2 separate regions of the Homo sapiens genome follow, and region 2 is linked to region 1. The links come from fine-mapping of genetic effects on gene expression. Tissue or cell type: whole blood. Region 1 holds a variant in brackets; the other region holds the start of a gene. All regions are shown on one strand. Distances are between the middles of the regions. Region 1 overlaps RANBP3 (RAN binding protein 3). Region 2 holds the start of CAPS (calcyphosine).

What was found. PIP is the estimated chance that this variant, and not a neighbour inherited with it, causes the effect.
Region 2: it holds the start of CAPS, and the variant in region 1 is fine-mapped to the expression of CAPS in whole blood (TOPMed, PIP above 0.99).

Annotation. Positions count from the first base shown.
Region 1 is chr19:5,932,537-5,940,859 of GRCh38, reverse strand. RANBP3 (RAN binding protein 3) reads left to right here. Exons shown (of 17, transcript NM_007322.3): 6 at 7,381-7,446; 7 at 8,316-8,323. Among named protein-coding and RNA genes, the nearest start is that of CAPS, 22 kb to the right of the region's middle. RefSeq lists a silencer at 906-1,086. The variant C/G (reference allele first, on the strand shown) is at 3,191.
Region 2 is chr19:5,910,743-5,919,038 of GRCh38, reverse strand. CAPS (calcyphosine) reads right to left here and starts at 4,785. Exons shown (of 5, transcript NM_004058.5): 1 at 4,730-4,785; 2 at 4,550-4,654; 3 at 4,299-4,476; 4 at 3,893-4,099; 5 at 2,828-3,818. The coding sequence starts at 4,632. The coding sequence ends at 3,717. It overlaps VMAC (vimentin type intermediate filament associated coiled-coil protein), which reads right to left. Exons shown (of 2, transcript NM_001017921.4): 2 at 8,186-8,296. It overlaps RANBP3 (RAN binding protein 3), which reads left to right. Exons shown (of 17, transcript NM_007322.3): 15 at 401-543; 16 at 1,059-1,245; 17 at 1,386-2,900. The coding sequence ends at 1,429.

The sequences.
Region 1 (8,323 bases):
GATTTGAGGGTAAATGCCACTGCAGGGCTATTCTCTCGTCCCCGTCTTGACTTCCCACTCTGGCATTGTCTCGTGGCCTCTGTCTTAGCTGTCTGTAGTGCCAACTTGGACATACATGAGTGTTTAGACAGGTTCTCTGGTTACCCAACTGAAATCCATTCCTGGAAAGTTCATGTAAATCATTTTACAGTCCTGAACCTTCAGGATGTCAAGTTGTTTCTGCTTACAGAAGTCACGCATGCGTTACAGGAACACACAGCGTAGGAAGCCAGGGTCCTTCCCAAGTCACCCCTCCACACCCTTGTTTTCATGCCCTTTTCCCATCACGTTGGTTTTGGACATGGCCGCGTCTTTTTGCACAGCTGCATTAGGTTTTCCAGTGCTATTACACTGTCATCTGCTGACTGGATATTGCGGAACTGTCCAGATGGCTTGCAGTCCAGGCTGCAGTTGGCATCCTTTTAATTTAAGGATCTTTGCACCTGTGGATAGGTGTTCTGTGGAATGAGGGAGCTCCACTTCCTGCTCGTTGATTTTATTCCTTCCCCCTCACTGCCCACTGCTGAACCATGCTTGCTGTATCGAAAACCAGCATAGAGAAGAGGAGGTGTTTGGGCTGTGAATGTAGGCTAAAGAGGCGAGGGACCACCATTCTTCTCCCCGGCCCTCTTCAAATCACCTCCCGTCCAGCGCAGCAGCCCCCAAGAGACACTCAGCTCTCCAGGGTAACTGGAGGCGTGAGGGGCACCAATAATTTGAACAGTGTTGTCTTTGGTTCCATTCTGCGTAGAGTGAGTTCTTCCCCTACGAATTCCACTTCATTTGTGGAAACCTGTTGGCTGGCCCACACCCTGGGAAGCAGTTGCCCTGGTGAAGGAAGATCTTAGGTGGGGGAGGGGGAACCCCATGGACAAGCCTTGACAGGTGAGGAGGAGTCAGGGCCTCCAATGTGGCCTGGAGCATCTGATATCTCCCCTGCCGGCTGCCCCTGCAGAGGTGCAGGGACAAGGGGGTGCCCCCAGTTGACCAGAGTTGACTGTAGTCATCAGACAGATCAAGGCCGTCGGGCTGGAGACCCTCGTAGTGCTGTAAAGAGTCTTGGGGTTTGCTGTTCTCGGGAAAGACTGAATGCCCTGTTTGCGTGCTGTTCCGTCTCCTCCCGTGGGACGTGAGAATCCACCCCTCAGGTGGGAGAGGTGATCTCTGAGCGTCCACCCCACCCATTCATGCTGTTTTTCCTCTTGTTCCCTCCCCCGCCTGCACCTCCTTGTCAACAGTTTCAAAAAACAATGTTTTTATGCCATCAAGCTTCTGCGAGCCATCTGCAGGCAATTCCGACTCAGAGCCAAGTGAGCCCCGGCCCCTCTGCCTTCCCGCCCGGCCTGGGGGTTCTCCTGGGAGGAAAAGCAATTGGTGTGGGAAAATCAGATCTTCAGCGGGCATTTAAAGTCAGTTCTTCTTCAGCTGTTAAAATTTTTCCCCCAACTCTTCAGCTCATAGTCTGGGGATCTGGCGTGAGATGAGGCTTCATAAGCCCTCATGTTTGTTTCTGCAAGCAGGGCCTGGTTGCATGGAGCTCTAAGTCCTCTAAAAACAACCTGTGAAGAAATGTATCACTCATTTTTCAAAATTTTATACAAGTAATGCATTCATAATTGGGGTTTTTTGGTTTTTTAGACAGACTTTCACTCTTTTTGCCCAGGCTGGAGTGCAGTGGTGTGATCTCAACTCACTGCAACCTCCGCCTCCCGGGTTCAAGTGATTCTGCTGCCTCAGCTTCCCGAGTAGCTGGGATTACAGGCGCACACCACAATGCCGGGGTAATTTTGTATTTTTTTAGTAGAGACAGGGTTTCACCTGTTGGCCAGGCTGGTCTCCAACTCCTGACCTCAGGTGATGCACCTGTCTCGGCCTCCCAAAGTACTGGAATTACAGGCATGAGCCACCGCACCTGGCCCATAATTGTTTTTTCTTTAAAGTAAATCAGAAATATTTCAACTAAAAAGAATCCCTGCCCCTTCCCCACTCACCCTGCCATCCCAAAGGTAACGCCTGTGAAGTTGGTGAATTTCTAGACCTCTTTTTTGTGCATTCTCACATTAATTTTGCTCAGACCTACCTAGATAAATATGTTTAATCACAGCTTCAAAACTTTTTGTGTGTTTTGGAGACGGAGTTTCACTCTTGTCCCCCAGGCTGGAGTGCAATGGGGCGATCTTGGCTCACTGCAACCTCTGCCTCCTGGGTTCAAGCAATTCTCCTGCCTCAGCCTCCCAAGTAGCTGGGATTACAGGCATGTGCCACCATGCCCAGCTAATGTTTTGTATTTTTAGTAGAGACGAGGGTTTCACCGTGTTGGCCAGGCTGGTCTCGAACTCCTGACCTCAAGCGAGCTTCCCGCCTCAGCCTCCCAAAGTGCTAGGATTACAGGCGTGAGCCACCACGTCTGGCCCCCAGCTTTAAAATTTTAAGGAAAGCCGCTCCCCCTTTCTGAAGAATATGGAGCCTGCCTTTTTGGTCTTTCACTGGAGAACCAACTCCAAGGTTTCCTGAAAGTTTCTCCCACGTGGCTGAAATTCCTCATAAAAGATTTAACAAGCGAGTTTAACAACCTGAATTCTGTAACCCAACCTACCATATATAAATTCATTGCCGACTTCAAAAGCATTGTGAGATAAGTTAGCTGCTGGCGTGATGTCCGTGTCAAGGGAAGAGGTGGGTTCTTATAACTCTCAGCATTGAGTTGATGGCCCCGTTTCAACAAGGCATTTTGACTCTAAAAGCAAACTGTTTTGAGCCGACCACCTGGTCTCATCCTGCAGAGGGGCTTGGTGTTTCAGGGTCCTCAGGAAGGGCACGATGTTGGTTATTCCTGGGGTGTCGCTTAGCAGGTGGTGGTCTGGATGGGGGCACAGAGCCTGCCACGGTGAGGCAGGTTCTGCTTTAGGTGATCAGTTACTAAAGCCGTGTGTCTGGACCCATTTGTGCTGCTGAGCTCTGTTACAAATCTCATGATCGCTTCTGAGGTCTGTGAGCAACGGCCTCCCTCCTGTCTCTCTCCCCACAGACCTTTCCCCTCCAGCCTCGAGCAGGGCAGCTGTTTCGCAGGCCCCGACGCGGCATGGTTTAAAGCCCCAGTGCCCTCACGCATGAAAAGGCAGTCATATCAGCCACACATCAGTTCTGCAAA[C/G]CCAACTTCACATCCTTGTCTGCCTGCCTTCTGTTTTTTAGCTTTAATTTTGAAAAGCTTTAACACTTACAGAAGAATTTCTCTGTCCCTTTTGTCTGAAGACCCCATTTAGCTTTCTCCAGTCAGCTCCATGAGTCCATTAGAAAAAAGGACTGAGACCCTGGTCCTACCACACATACCTCCACTTTTATCGGGAACAGGTCTTCAGGCTTCCCTTGACTTTCATGACCTTGAGGATTACAGGTCAGCTGTTGGGTAGAAGTGTCTCAGTTGGGGCCTGTCCAGTATGTCCTGGTGGTGAGACCCAGGTGTGGCATCTTGGATGAGAATGTCACAGAAGCCATGCACAGTACTCACTTGTCCCCTTACCAGCACGGGGTGGCCGTGCTCCTCGATCAGGGTGCTGTCTGCCAGGTTTCACCACTGTAAAGCTACTTTCCCCTTTGTGCTGGATGGTTTCTGAGAGACACTTTAGACTCTGGGACTGTGTGTACCTCATCACACTCCTGCCCTCCAGTGTTCGCGCCCAGTGATGTCTTTAGAGTGATGTTTCCCGCTGACGACTGCCCCATGGGATTTTCTTCCTTTTTTTTTTTTTTTTTTTTTTTTTTTTGGAGACAGAGTCTTGCTCTGTTGCCCAGGCTGGAGTGCAGTGGCACAATCTTGGCTCACTGCACCCTCTGCCTCCTGAGCTCAAGAGATTCTCAAGCCTCAGCCTCTCAAGTAGCTGGGATTACAGGCACTCACCACCCGTGGGATACTCTGAGCACCATCCCTGCCGCGTTGATTAGTGGTGTTCACTGGAAGGAGGAGCTTGCCCTTCTCCCCACGTGCTTGTTCCTTGATCGATTGTGTCAACATAGACAGGCGAGCTTCTGTTGGCATCAGTGGGTGACCGTCTATGGTTACTGGTTTTTATTTAATGTTCAGGTTGTCCCAGATTTGGCCAGTGGAAGCCCTGTCAGGCAGGTCCCCGTTGTTCATTTGAGCACTGCCCTTACTTTGTCACAACAAGAGCCTCCCGGCTCAGCCTCTTTTCTCATCCCAGTCCTGGAATCTGCATTTCTCAGAGGCACGCTGGTTCTTCAGGGAACATGGTCTTTAGAAACCAAGGTCTGAAATCACTCCGTGCGGTACTGCGATCTCACTGACTCAGGTGTAGCCCTGCTCCCGGCCCTCCGCGGACAGAGCTGGGGACACACCTTTGTCCACATGATCTCTTACTCTCTGCCTGCCTGCCTGCCTGCATGTGGAGATGACGGACAGAGCTGGGGACACACCTTTGTCCACATGATCTCTTACTTTCTGCCTGCCTGCCTGCATGTGGAGATGACGCCAGGGGCACGTGGGTGCCTCCCTTGGTATATTCCTCCCTCTTCTGGCACTAAGAAACCGGCACCCTCTGTCCTCTGTGCATCAGGCATCACTCCCTGCCCACCGCATGGCTGAGCCTCCTCCCCACCCTGCACCAGCGCCGTCCACGCACAGACCCCAGCTCCAGCCAGGCTGCCTTCTCAGCATTTGATGCACACAGTCTCATTCCCATCCCTTCCCTGGTTAAATCGGGGCTCCCTGGGGGGCAAGCATGGCTTCCCACAGACATCACTTGGGGCTCTCTGAGGCAGGCGAAAAGCACCCTCAGACAGGGAGCCTGCCAGCTTCCCAGGAGGGCAAAGGCTGCCGGCGGGAGGGGTCCTCTTCCTCTCTGGAGTGATGCGCATCCCTCAGAGACTGGTGCAGCATCCTCTACAGGCCCACACCCTTTGGGTATGTGGCAGGCGTCGGGCTCTGGCCATGATTCAGCAGCTTGTGTTGCGACCTGTGTTGCAGAAGAAAATTTCTGGAAGGAATGAGAAGAGACCACCCTTGTTTTCGTGGAGCAGGGCCTGTGACAGGGACCTCCAGATTTTGGCTACCCCTGGAGCACGCCTTGTCTGTCTGCAGCTCTGGAGAGGGCCACGCTCTGGGCCTAGCACTAGTGGCAGGTCGGTGGCAGGGATTATCCAAGTCTCCTGCTTCCGCTTGGCAGCTCGGGCCAGCCCCCAGGCTCCCCTCAGCGTTAGCGCCAGCGCTGCACGGAGCGGAGTGTGGAAGGGCAGTAGTCAGTCTGTGACCAAAACATCAGCGTGGAGAGCCAGCTTGAAGAGCTTGCTAAAAACTATCTAAATTGTGAATTTGACCTTTTAAAAATGTATCTAAATTGCCAGTCGTCTTCTGCATAGCTCCGTGCTTTGGAAATGTAATTGAGTGTTTCCTTCGGAAAAGGAACATCTGGCGGCTCACCCCCGCATCCTGCAGGATCTGGCTCTCCTGAGTTTGTTTTTTTATGACCAGTCTGTTACGGGAGAGGCACCAGCTCTGCTAACACAGGCTGCCAGAAGCCCCTGGGGCTGGACTCCCTCATACAACTATTATAGTAAGAAGGGTTGCTGCAATCCTCTTGCTGCCCAGGCACAGCGGCGCCTCCGGGGCACAGCGGGAGAGGGGTCTTCCTTGGCCTGCTGAATCTTGATTTGGAGTCTGAAAATTTGGGCTGACAAGGTGTTTTGGGTTTTGTTGTCATCGTTTTAGTGTACAATTGAGTGGTTTTAGTACATCCACAGAGTTGTGCGACCATCACGTGATTAATTTTAGAACATTTCCATCATCCCAAAAAGAAACCTCATCCCTGTTAGTCACAGCCTGCCCCCAACCCCCTCCCTTGAGCCCTGGTAACCGCTCAGCTCCTTTCTGCTTAGTCTGGCATTTCACAGAAATGCAATCAGACAGCATGAGGGGGTGTTTTTCTTTTGATTTACACCTTTAATTTCTTCCAACAATGTTTTTGTTTTGTTTGAGACAAGGTCTCACTCTGTCGCCCAGGCTGGAGTGCAGTGGTACAGTCGTAACTCAACTGTAACCTCAAGCTCCCAGGCTCAAGTGATCTTCCCACCTCTGCCTCCTGAGTAGCTGGGACTACAGGCATGTACCACCATGCCTGGCTAAGTTTTTAATTTTTTGTAGAGTTAGGGTCTTGCAGTGTTGCCCAGGCTGATCTCAAACTCTTGGGCTCATGCAGTCCTCCTGCCTCAGCCTCCCAAAGCACTGGGATTACAGGCATGAGCCACTGCACCCGGCCCTAACATTGTTTTATAGTTTTATCTTGTGAAATGTATTCCCAAGTATTTTATTCCTTTTGGTGTTATTGTAAATGGAATTATTTTCTTAATTTTGCTTTTGGGTCATTCACTGCTAGTGTTAGAAACACAATCGATTTTTGTATATTGATCTTGTGTCCTGTAGCTTGACAAGGGGGTGAAGCTTAGCACAAACGCAGGGCTACCTCCAGGAGCCATAATGCCACAGTCTCTGTGCCTTGCCCAGGAACAGGCTTGCCTGCCTGAGTCACAGGCCTTTTATGACAATCCTTCCTGTTGTGGATCAGATTAGACCACCATCCCCACTCCCTGTATGGGCACAGTTGCCAAGACACACAGATGAAGGGGTCCATGTGGACAGGTGGCTGGGCGAGGCTGGGCTCTCGAGCCATCCCAGGAGCTCGTGGGCATTCACCTTTCCCTCTAGTTTTGTGAATTTGTCAGCCCGGACTCTGGCCCAGGGGGAGCTGGCCTCCTCCACGGTGGCCAGGAGTGCCCCCTCACTGAGACGGGAAGCTCCGCAGGCACATCTGGAAAGGGGAGGCAGGCTCACTGTGTGCCACCTTTGACCTTTTCATCACAAAAACCTGTCTCACTTCCCAGACATCTGTAGTGGTGCCAAGGTTCTTCCTGGCCACAGCCGCATCCTCTGACAGACAAGCCTTCTAGGAAAGGGAAGTGGGGCCTGAGCGCCTGTGTTCCGTGGCTCCCTGACATTCTCCAGAGCCAGGTACAGGGCCGCTGAGCAGCTCGGCTCCTGAGCCTGCAGCAGGTCATAGACAGCTGGGAGGGCGGCTGACGCCCCACCTGCCCCCATGGTCAGCAGCTGGCCCAAGAGCCATCGTTCCTCCTGCCCTTGTCTCTCCCCTCCTCCAGGCGCCTTCCAGGCCTGCTGATCGGACGAGACTTCTGTTGTAATTTGGAAATGTTCTCCCTGGTTCTCCAGGCCCGAAGTCACTGAGGCCAAGACCATAGTCCTCTCCTGCCCTTGCCCCCCAGGCCCAGCCCCAGCCCAGGCAGGCCTGCTGTTGATATTTTGTCTTGTGCTTTTAGAGGAAAGGAGCAGTGGCTTCCGGTTGAAGCCACCAACGCTGATCCACGGCCAAGCCCCCAGCGCAGGTAGGTCGTCTACCTCCCTGGGGCGGGGGGTGGCTCTCTGACGTTTTTCAGACCTCTGCTAGGCCACACCAGGGCACCGCGGGCTCAGCCTGCTTTCTAGAAAGATCACTTGTAACTTGACCCACGAGCCCTGGAAAGTTCCTTTAAAGAGAGGCTGTCTGAGCAGGGAGGTTGGGACCCCTGACTGTGAGCGTCGTGTGTTCAGAAAAGTGGGCAGTGGTGGCACGGGAGCAGGCTAGGCGGGGTGCATCGGGCGGGCTCCATGCCCAGCAGTAGCGCACTTGGTTCAGCCTGTCTGTCCTTCATGTTCTGGCCCCCACATACCACAGTGTTCGCCCCAGTTAGCAGGGTGGCTGCATTCCAGCGGCGCGCTGCTAGTGAGCCGGCTGCTAGTGAGGCTGCCGGGGATGCTGCACAGGGCAGGGCACATGCAAGGGTCCTTGTCCCATCTGCCTTTGGCAGAGGGACTTCCTCAGCATGGCTGTTTTGAAAAACAGGTGCAAAATGTGCCTGTACGTGACCCCACACCGAGTCCTGAGCCTCCAGGTAGCTGCCTGTGAATGCACTGCTCTCCTCCCACAGTCTCCACTTGACTGTTGAGTCTGCCGGCGCCCCGCCACGTTACTGTGCTAACTGGATTAATTCACAGGCGTCGGTCACTGGGAGTTTCATGTAATCACATGTAAAAATAACAGTAGCCAGATCTCCTGGCCAGCTGTTAAAAAAAGACCTCAAGTTTTTAAAAAAGTGCTTCCCTGCAAAGTCTAGCCTGCAAGGGGCATGAAATGGGATGCCAGGGGTCAGTCTCTGAAGCGCCTGGGGGCAGGCAGGGGTCCACGGGCACTGGGAAGGCCGCCTTCTGTTCCTAGGTCTGCCA
Region 2 (8,296 bases), 22 kb after region 1:
GAGTGTCAGCCCCTGCCTCCCGCAGCCCACCCCGTACTCCTCTCTAATCCCCCCTTCTCCAAGGGAACTGCCATCCTGGTGCCCACCTGTGTGGACCAAACACAACCTCCCACAAGCTGCATGTGGCCTCTGGTCACTGATCTGCAGCACCAGCCTGTGCAGCCACCTGCAGTTGTGGCCTTCAGTGGTCCAGGCTTGGGGAGGAGGAGCCCCGCCCCGGGAGCAGGTGTGCCAGGGCTGGCCTCAGGGAGAAGTCTTGCTCTGTGGGTGGGTCCTGGGAGGATCATGGGCTTTTGCGCGGTGATGTCGCTTTCCATCTGGACTGTGTTGGCTCTTGGAGCTGGCTGTTTGTGAGGGGGCCGGTGTGGGGGCCAGGGCTGAGTGGCCTTGTTGGTTGTAGTGATGCGGACCCAGGGGAGCCTGCGACTGATCCTCAACACCAAGCTGTGGGCCCAGATGCAGATCGACAAGGCCAGCGAGAAGAGCATTCGCATCACAGCCATGGACACCGAGGACCAGGGCGTGAAGGTCTTCCTGATCTCGGTGAGCCAGCCACGCGGGTGCATCTGGGACCCCTCATCCTGCCAGCCCTGTGGGGGTTCCTGGGCACACAGATCAGGCAGGACGGTGGGGAGGGGAGGGGGGAGGGGCTTCAGTTGCTTCCTGGGACACAAGAAGCACTATGGGACCCGCCAGTCCCAGCCTTCAGGAATAGAGATCATGGTCCTTGTCCTCTTCTCAACCCAGAGAAGCCGCTGGGGTTTGGCTGAGGGGTTGTGATGTGTTCAGGGCTAACAGCCCTGTGGGGCGGTCACCTCTCTCCTATGTCATGGTGTCACAGTCGAGTCCACCAACCCTGACCTCTGGGATATTCCCAGCCACCTGGGAGTGGTGGCATCCTTTCGGGGAGAGGCCGGCAGGCCCAGGGCCAATGGCCTCCCCACAAGGCCTTGTGGCAGTGTCACCTCTGAACCTTGGGACTTGGCACTTGTGTTCTGCAGAAGGCAGGAGGGGGTAGGACTGGGGTCCGGGGGTCTCATACCCTCCTCCCTTCCCAGGCCAGCTCCAAGGACACAGGTCAGTTGTATGCAGCCCTGCACCACCGCATCCTGGCCCTGCGCAGCCGCGTGGAGCAGGAGCAGGAGGCCAAGATGCCCGCGCCTGAGCCTGGGGCAGCCCCATCCAACGAGGAGGACGACAGCGACGATGACGATGTCCTGGCTCCTTCAGGGGCCACCGCAGCTGGTGAGTCGGGTGGTCCCTACCCTGGGGGGGATAGAAAGAGCTGCCCGCCATCCTTGATCCAGTGCTGATCTCCTGGCGGGGGTGGCCAGACCTGGGAAGTGCGGGCTCCATCCTGATGCGGGGCTGCTGCTTCCCTGCAGGTGCTGGTGACGAAGGGGACGGGCAGACGACCGGGAGCACATAGCGGCCGGGAGCCCGGCTGCACACCAGGCTGCTGCTTTGTCCGTCTATCCACCCGCCCACCCGCCCCCACCCCACCGGCAGCGTCCAGGTGCGGGGCCGGGAACCACACACCCCACTGGGCCGGCCACAGTCTGGACCCGCACGTCCTGTTCAAAAGCAGACTCGGGAACTGCCTGAATGTGGTTTGGGACACGAGACCTCATCATATTGATGAGCGAACAAACAAGAACATTTCCTCCCTCCCCTCCTTTGAATTGAAATGGCACATTAAGACTTGTCACGGCTTCTCACTGGGACTGGAGACCTCGTTCCTTCACCCCGCGTGTCGCCAGCCTCTGGGTCCAGCCAGAGCCCCTGGCTTCTCCGCCACCCACACCCTTCCCACCCTGCTGTGGGGCCCTGCCTTTGTGGGGAGCAGCCAGCCCTCTGCCCCTGCCCAGGGCTCCCCAACTATAGGCCTGGGACCCCCGCCCAGCTTGGGGGGCTGCTCGTACGAGTGTAGACACTGGGCCCATTGGACGTGCTGTTAACTACTATCTTCATTTCCCACTTCCCCTCTCTGATTGGGGGTGTATATTTTACATCTTTTTTTCTTTTTATTTTCGAAGGCTTTGTTTTGGTTTCTTAGGTTAAGATGCTCTCGAGCGTTGAGCAGGCACAGCTCTGTCGAGGTCCCTGTCCCCCACCTGTGGTTCTGGCCTCTGAGGTTGGGGGACTACTTGTTTCCCACCCCAGGTTCCTCCAGGCCAAGTCATGGGGTGATGAGGAGTTGGGGCCCTGTCTGTCCTAGGCCTGGAGAGTGCCTGTCTGGGAAAAGGTCACTGGACCTGGAAGGGTCCCCAGGGTCCCCTGACTCCCGTCTCCATCTGTCACGTGGTTCACCATCATCAGGCACCAGGCGCAAACTGCTTCCCGCTGTTGGCCATCCCTTCCCCAGCCACAGGTGTCCCTGCCCCCAGGACAGTCCAGGGCCAGGGGCTTCTGTGAGAGGCAGAGGGGGACCCTCACCAAATCTTGGTGGAAGAGCCCAGGGGCTGGTCCCAGAACAGGCAGTCTCACAAGCACGCAGCACACTGGAGTGGACGCCTGTGCCCACCCGAGCCTGGAGCATGGCCAAGAGCCAGCTTGCACCACCCACCTGGGAGGCCGAGGAGGAGGTCCCCTGGGCACAGGGCCTCTTTGGGACTTCAGAGGAAATCTCCCAGTCCCACTCTCGGAGGGTTAAGAGAAGGCCTCCTGCAGCTGTGCCGTCCACACCTCTAGGTCGCCAGAGCCCTGGCCCCCAGCCCCCAGCAAGCCTGAGCCCGGGAAGAACCAGAGGCCCTCCCGAGAGACCCAGTCACACGTCTCTGCTTTAAGCCTTAGCCAGCTAGTGACGAGTACAACGAGATAACGCCCATGTGTTTTGGAACATTTATGTAAGATTGTCATATGAAATGTATTTGGGAACTACATTAAACTTTTAACTAAAACCCTGGCCTCTGCATGCCCCAGGGGCCTCAGGAAGCCCCTGACCAGGAACGGCCTCCACCTCCCCGGGCGAGGACCTCCAGCAGCCTGGGGCCTCATGCTCCCACCCAGCGTGTCACCAGTGCTGGGGTCCAGCCACAGCCCTGTTCTCTCCACCACCACCCGCACTTTACCCCCACCCCTGCTGCAAGGCCCCGCCGGTCTGCCCCCGCCCAGAGCTCCCAGCCTCGGGCCGCTCACCAGAATGTAGATACTGGGCCCGCTGGACATGTTACCTGCTATTTTTATTCCCCATTTGCCATCTTCTGATTGGGGGTTGATGTTTTACAGATTTTTTTTTCAAAGGCTTTATTTCAGTTTCTGAGGTTAGGATGCCCCTGTGCCCCTCGCTCCACACCTGGGCAGGTCTAAACTTCCTTCCAGGATGGCCTCCACACACAGCCTCCCACCTGGGGTCACCTGGCTTCCTGGGGGACCCGCAAGGGAGGGGCAGGGAGCAGCAGTCCGGGTGCGGGGATCGGGGGACCTCGGCGGGGGCATCCACAGGGGCTGCAAGATCTCTGGTCAGCATGGCGTGGGTGGGGAGAGCGTTTCTCCCTGGGGTCCTGAGCCAGTGACTCCTGTTAGGACCTTTGTCCCACCTCCGCCTGGTGGACCGGCAGGGACCTGGTCTAGCCAGTCCTGCAGCCTCCATTCCCCCACCTGCCCCTCCCCGCTCTGTGGTGTGGCTGCCCAGGAGAGAAGGGGCCCAGGGAAGGGAGGTCTCCGGCAGGGGTGGGGAGTGACAGGCCAGGGCAGCAGGGCTGAGCCGGAGCTGCTCACAGCTGCCAGGCACTGGTCATCATGGCCACGAACTCCTCATCCGTGTTCATGGAGGCACTCACGCCGCTGTAGTAGTCCTGGAATTCCGCCAGTGTGACCTGGGAACAGAGGGCCGTGAGGGGGCACGGCCGAGGAACTGCCTGGGGAGGGGGCCCCCCGCGCAGCCACCCACCTGCCCGTCCTTCTCAGAGGAGTCGAAGTTGTCCAGGAAGCGGCGCAGCACCTCGTCCTCGGTCCACTCCCCACTGCGCACCTTGGGGTGGGCACGGCCACTGTACACCCCGCGGAGGTCGTCCACCGTCACGACGCCGTCCCCACTGCGGTCCAGCTTGGCAAATGCAGCTGCGATGACAGCCTCCCGGGCCTGGGACATGGGGGGCTGGGACAGGAGGTGGTGACTGGGGGTGGTGGGTAGCACACCCAAACCCCCAAGACGCTGTGCAGAGCACTGGGGCTGTATGCCCCAGCAGGCGCCTCTTAACAGCAGCTCTTAGGGAGGAGTCCCCGTCTCCGCATCTCAGCATCCTCTGTCGCCCCATGCCCAGGGCACACGCCTTGACTGTGAGGTGGGGGCTCACCCGCAGCGCCCGAAGGAACTCCTCCAGATCCAGCGTCCCGCTGCCATTGCGGTCCCACTTCCTGCACACACCCTCTGCCTCCGCCTGGTCCAGCACCAGCCCGAGTTTGGCCAGACCCTGCCGGAACTCATCAGCGTCCAGGGATCTGCTCCCGTCCCGGTCTAGTTGGCGGAAAAACCTGGAGGCAGGGGACACGGTTGGAACAGTGGTCTCAGGGGCCGGGGTCAGGAAGGTGAGAGGGGACAGCTCACCTGGCCAGGCCCTGGATGCCCGAGGCCCCGCGGGACAGGCACTGTGCCCGGAGTTTCTCCATGGTGGCATCCACGGCGTCCATGCTTGGTCTGGGCTCTGGGCAGCTGGAAGGGAGAGAGGTCAAGGTGGGGACTCCCGCAAGCCCACCCTGGCCGACTGCCCCTTGTTCAGATGCTCACCTGGCCTGCGTCTGTCCCAGAGTCCTGCCTGCGGGGCCTTGTGTTAGCTGTGTTGTGCCTGGGGAGACTGTTGCTAGTGGAAGGTGCCTCTGGAGATGGGGTGGGGCCCAGCTGCATGAATGCACTGTGCTGGGCAGTGGGGAGTGGGGGAGGGATGGGTGCGCCCAGCCTGACTGCTTACTCAACTGCCAGCCCCACAGGGCCTGGGACAGAGCCAGATCCCTGTGGCACTGCATCCCTTCCTGGCTCCAAGGAGGAGGGGCAGGCCACTGCCCTGCAGGGGCTGAAATGCCCTGGATGGAGACAAGTCCGTGGCTGGGGAGGCTTGACGCATGATTCCTGTGTGACCCTGGACAGGTCCCTTTCCCTCTCTGGCTTCACAGGGGCTTCTCAGCCCGAGCCAGGGCTGACAAAATTGCTGAGGAATCAAAGTTCAAAAGGGCCCCAGGTTCTGACCGGCCACTGCGGCTCATGCCTGAAATCCCAGCACTTTGGGAGGTCTAGGTGGGAGGATCACTTGAGCCCAGGAGTTTGGACCAGCCTGGGGAACATATAGAGAACTTGTTTCTATTGTACAGCAACAAAAATGCCCCAGGTGGGCTGGGCGCGGTGGCTCATGCCTGTAATCCCAGCACTTTGGGAGGCCGAGGTGGGCAGATCACAAGGTGAGGAGTTTGAGACCAGCCTGACCAACATGGTGAAACCCCGCCTCTACTAAAAATACAAAAATTAGCCGTGCATGATGGTGGGCGCCTGTAATCCGAGCTACTTAGGAAGCTGAGGCAGGAGAATCGCTTGAACCCAGGAGGTGGAGCTTGCAGTGAGCCAAGATTGCACCACTGCACTCCAGTCTGGGCGACAGAGCAAGACTCCATCTCAAAAAGAAAAAAAAAAAAAAAGCCCCAGGTGGCCCAGGTCCTGGGGCCCTAAGACCTCCCACCCAGGCCCACCTCCAAGGGCAGGTCCTGCAACCCACAGAGACTGAGCTGAGCCTGAGGGACACCTCTGCTCACTGCCACAAAGCTTGTCACTGGCCGTTGTTAGGAGCCAGTCCCAGGATTTCTGTCTTTACGGATCTTTTGTTGTTGGTTTTCAGGCCTGAAACGTGACTTAGTGGGCTGGCTCCTGACAAGGTGGTGAGCCAGAGGTTGTGACCCCGAGTGGAAGAGCAGCCCTGATCCTGGACATAAACCTCAAGAGACGAAGCCACCTCACTGAAGGCCTTCAACGGAGACATCGGATATACCTGCCCGCTAAGATAGGTGGGTTTTCCAGGACTTGAAACGTGGGCCCTGTTTGAGGACCCACTGTTCGCCCCGACCCAAGGATCATCAATCGGAGCCTTCTCCAAGCCTGGCTTTACCTCGCTCACAGCACAATTATATTGTCAGAAGTTGCCTTGCCTGAGCGCGGTGGCTCATGCCTGTAATCCCAACACTTTGGGAAGCCAGGGCAGGAAGATCACTTGAGCCCAGGAGTTTGAGACCCGCCTGTGCAACATAGTGAGACCCCCCCATCTCTACAAAAACTACAAAAAATTAGCCAGGCATGGTGGTGTGTTCCTGTAATCCCACCTACTTGGAAGGCTGAGGCAGGAGGATCACTTGAGCCCGGGAGTTGGAGGCTGCAGTGAGCTATGATCGCACCACTGCACTCCAGCCTGGGTTACAGAGCAAGACGCCCGCCTCTTAAAAATAAGTAAATAAACTGGCCGGGCACGGTGGCTCACGCCTGTAATCCCAGCACTTTGGGAGGCCGAGGCGGGCAGATCATGAGGTCAGCAGTTCGAGACCAGCCTGGCCAACATGGTGAAACCCTGTCTCTACTATAAATACAAAAATTAGTCAGCCGGGTGCGGTGGCTCATGCCTGTAATCACAGCACTTTGGGAGGCCGAGGCAGACAGATCACCTGAGGTCAGGAGTTTGAGACCAGCCTGGCCAACATGGTGAAACCCTGTCTCTACTTAAAATACGAAAAACTAGCTGGGCGTGGTGGTATGTGCCTGTAATCCCAGCTACTCGGGAGGCTGAGGCAGGAGAATTGCATGAACCTGGGAAGCGGAGGTTGCAGTGAGCCGAGATCGTGCCATTGCACTCCAGACTGGGGGACAAGAGCAAGACTTTGTCTCAAAAAAAAAAAAAGAAAATTAGCCAGGTATGGTGGCGGGTGCCTGTAATCCCACCTACTCCAGAGGCTGAGGCAGGAGAATCACTTGAACCCAGGAGGCAGAGGTTGCAGTGAACCAAGACCATGCCACTGCACCACAGCCTGGGCGACAGAGTGAGACTCTGTCTCAAAAATAAATAAATAACTTAAAAAAAGAGGCCAGGGCTGGGCGCGGTGGCTCACAGCTGTAATCCCAGCACTTTGGGAGGCTGAGGTGGGCGGATCACTTGAGGTCAGGAGTTCAAGACCAGCCTGGCCAACATTTTGAAACCCCATCTCTACTAAAAAAAATAAATAGCTGGGCATGGTGGTGCATGCCTGTAATCCCAGCTACTCAGGAGGCCAAGGCAGGAGAATCACTTGAACCCTGGAGGCAGAGGTTGCAGTGAGCCTAGATCACACCACTGTACTTCAGCCTGGGTGGCAGGGTGGCAGAGCCAGACTCCGTCTCAAAAAAAAAAAAAAAAAAAAGTTGCCTTTGGAGTCTGAAACCAATCTGTAGGTTACAGGCATCCCAGCATCTTGATTCAGGCCACCACTGATGTAACATCATCAGTTTTATGAGAAATCATGGTGACATCTGGCTGCCAAAATCCTGGTGGCTCACTGCAATCCAGAATTATTTAAATAGGCAGAGAAATACTTTCATGTCTATGAGTGTTACAAGCAGCATTTTTTTTTCTGTGTAGAGAACTATAAAATATAACCACTATTACTGAAGTGCTGTTTTGGCATCTCATTTGTAAATGTTTAGTAAGAATTTCTTGGGAGGCCAATGCGGGAGGATCACTTGAGGCCAGGAGTTCAAGACCAGCCTGGGCAATGTAATGAGACCTTATCTCTAGAAAAAATGCAAAAACGCAGCCAGGCATGGTGGCATATGCCCATGGTCCCAGCTACTTGGCAGGCTGAGGTAGCATGATAGCTTGATCCCAGGATTTTTTTTTGAGACGGAGTCTCCCTCTGTCGCCCAAGCTGGAGTGCAGTGGTACAATCTCGGCTCACTACAGCCTCCATCTCCCGGGTTCAAGTGATTCTCCTGCCTCAACCTCCCGAGTATCTGGGATTACAGGCACGCGCCACCACACCCGGTTAATTTTTGTGTTTTTAGTAGAGACGGAGTTTCACCATGTTGGTCAGGCTGGTCTTGAACTCCTGGCCTCAGGTGATCCACCTGCCTTGGCCTCCCAAAGTGCTGAGATTATAGGTGTGAGCCACTGGCCCAGCCAAGACCAGGATTTTGAGGCTGCAGTGAGTTGTGATCACACCATTGCACTCCAGCCTGGGCAACAGTGAGACTTTGTCTCTTTAAAAAAAAAAGAAAGAAAGAAAGAAAACAGAATTTCAGCAATAACTTCCCCCAGAATTGGAAGTGGCCCTGGCCCTCCAGACCCGGAGT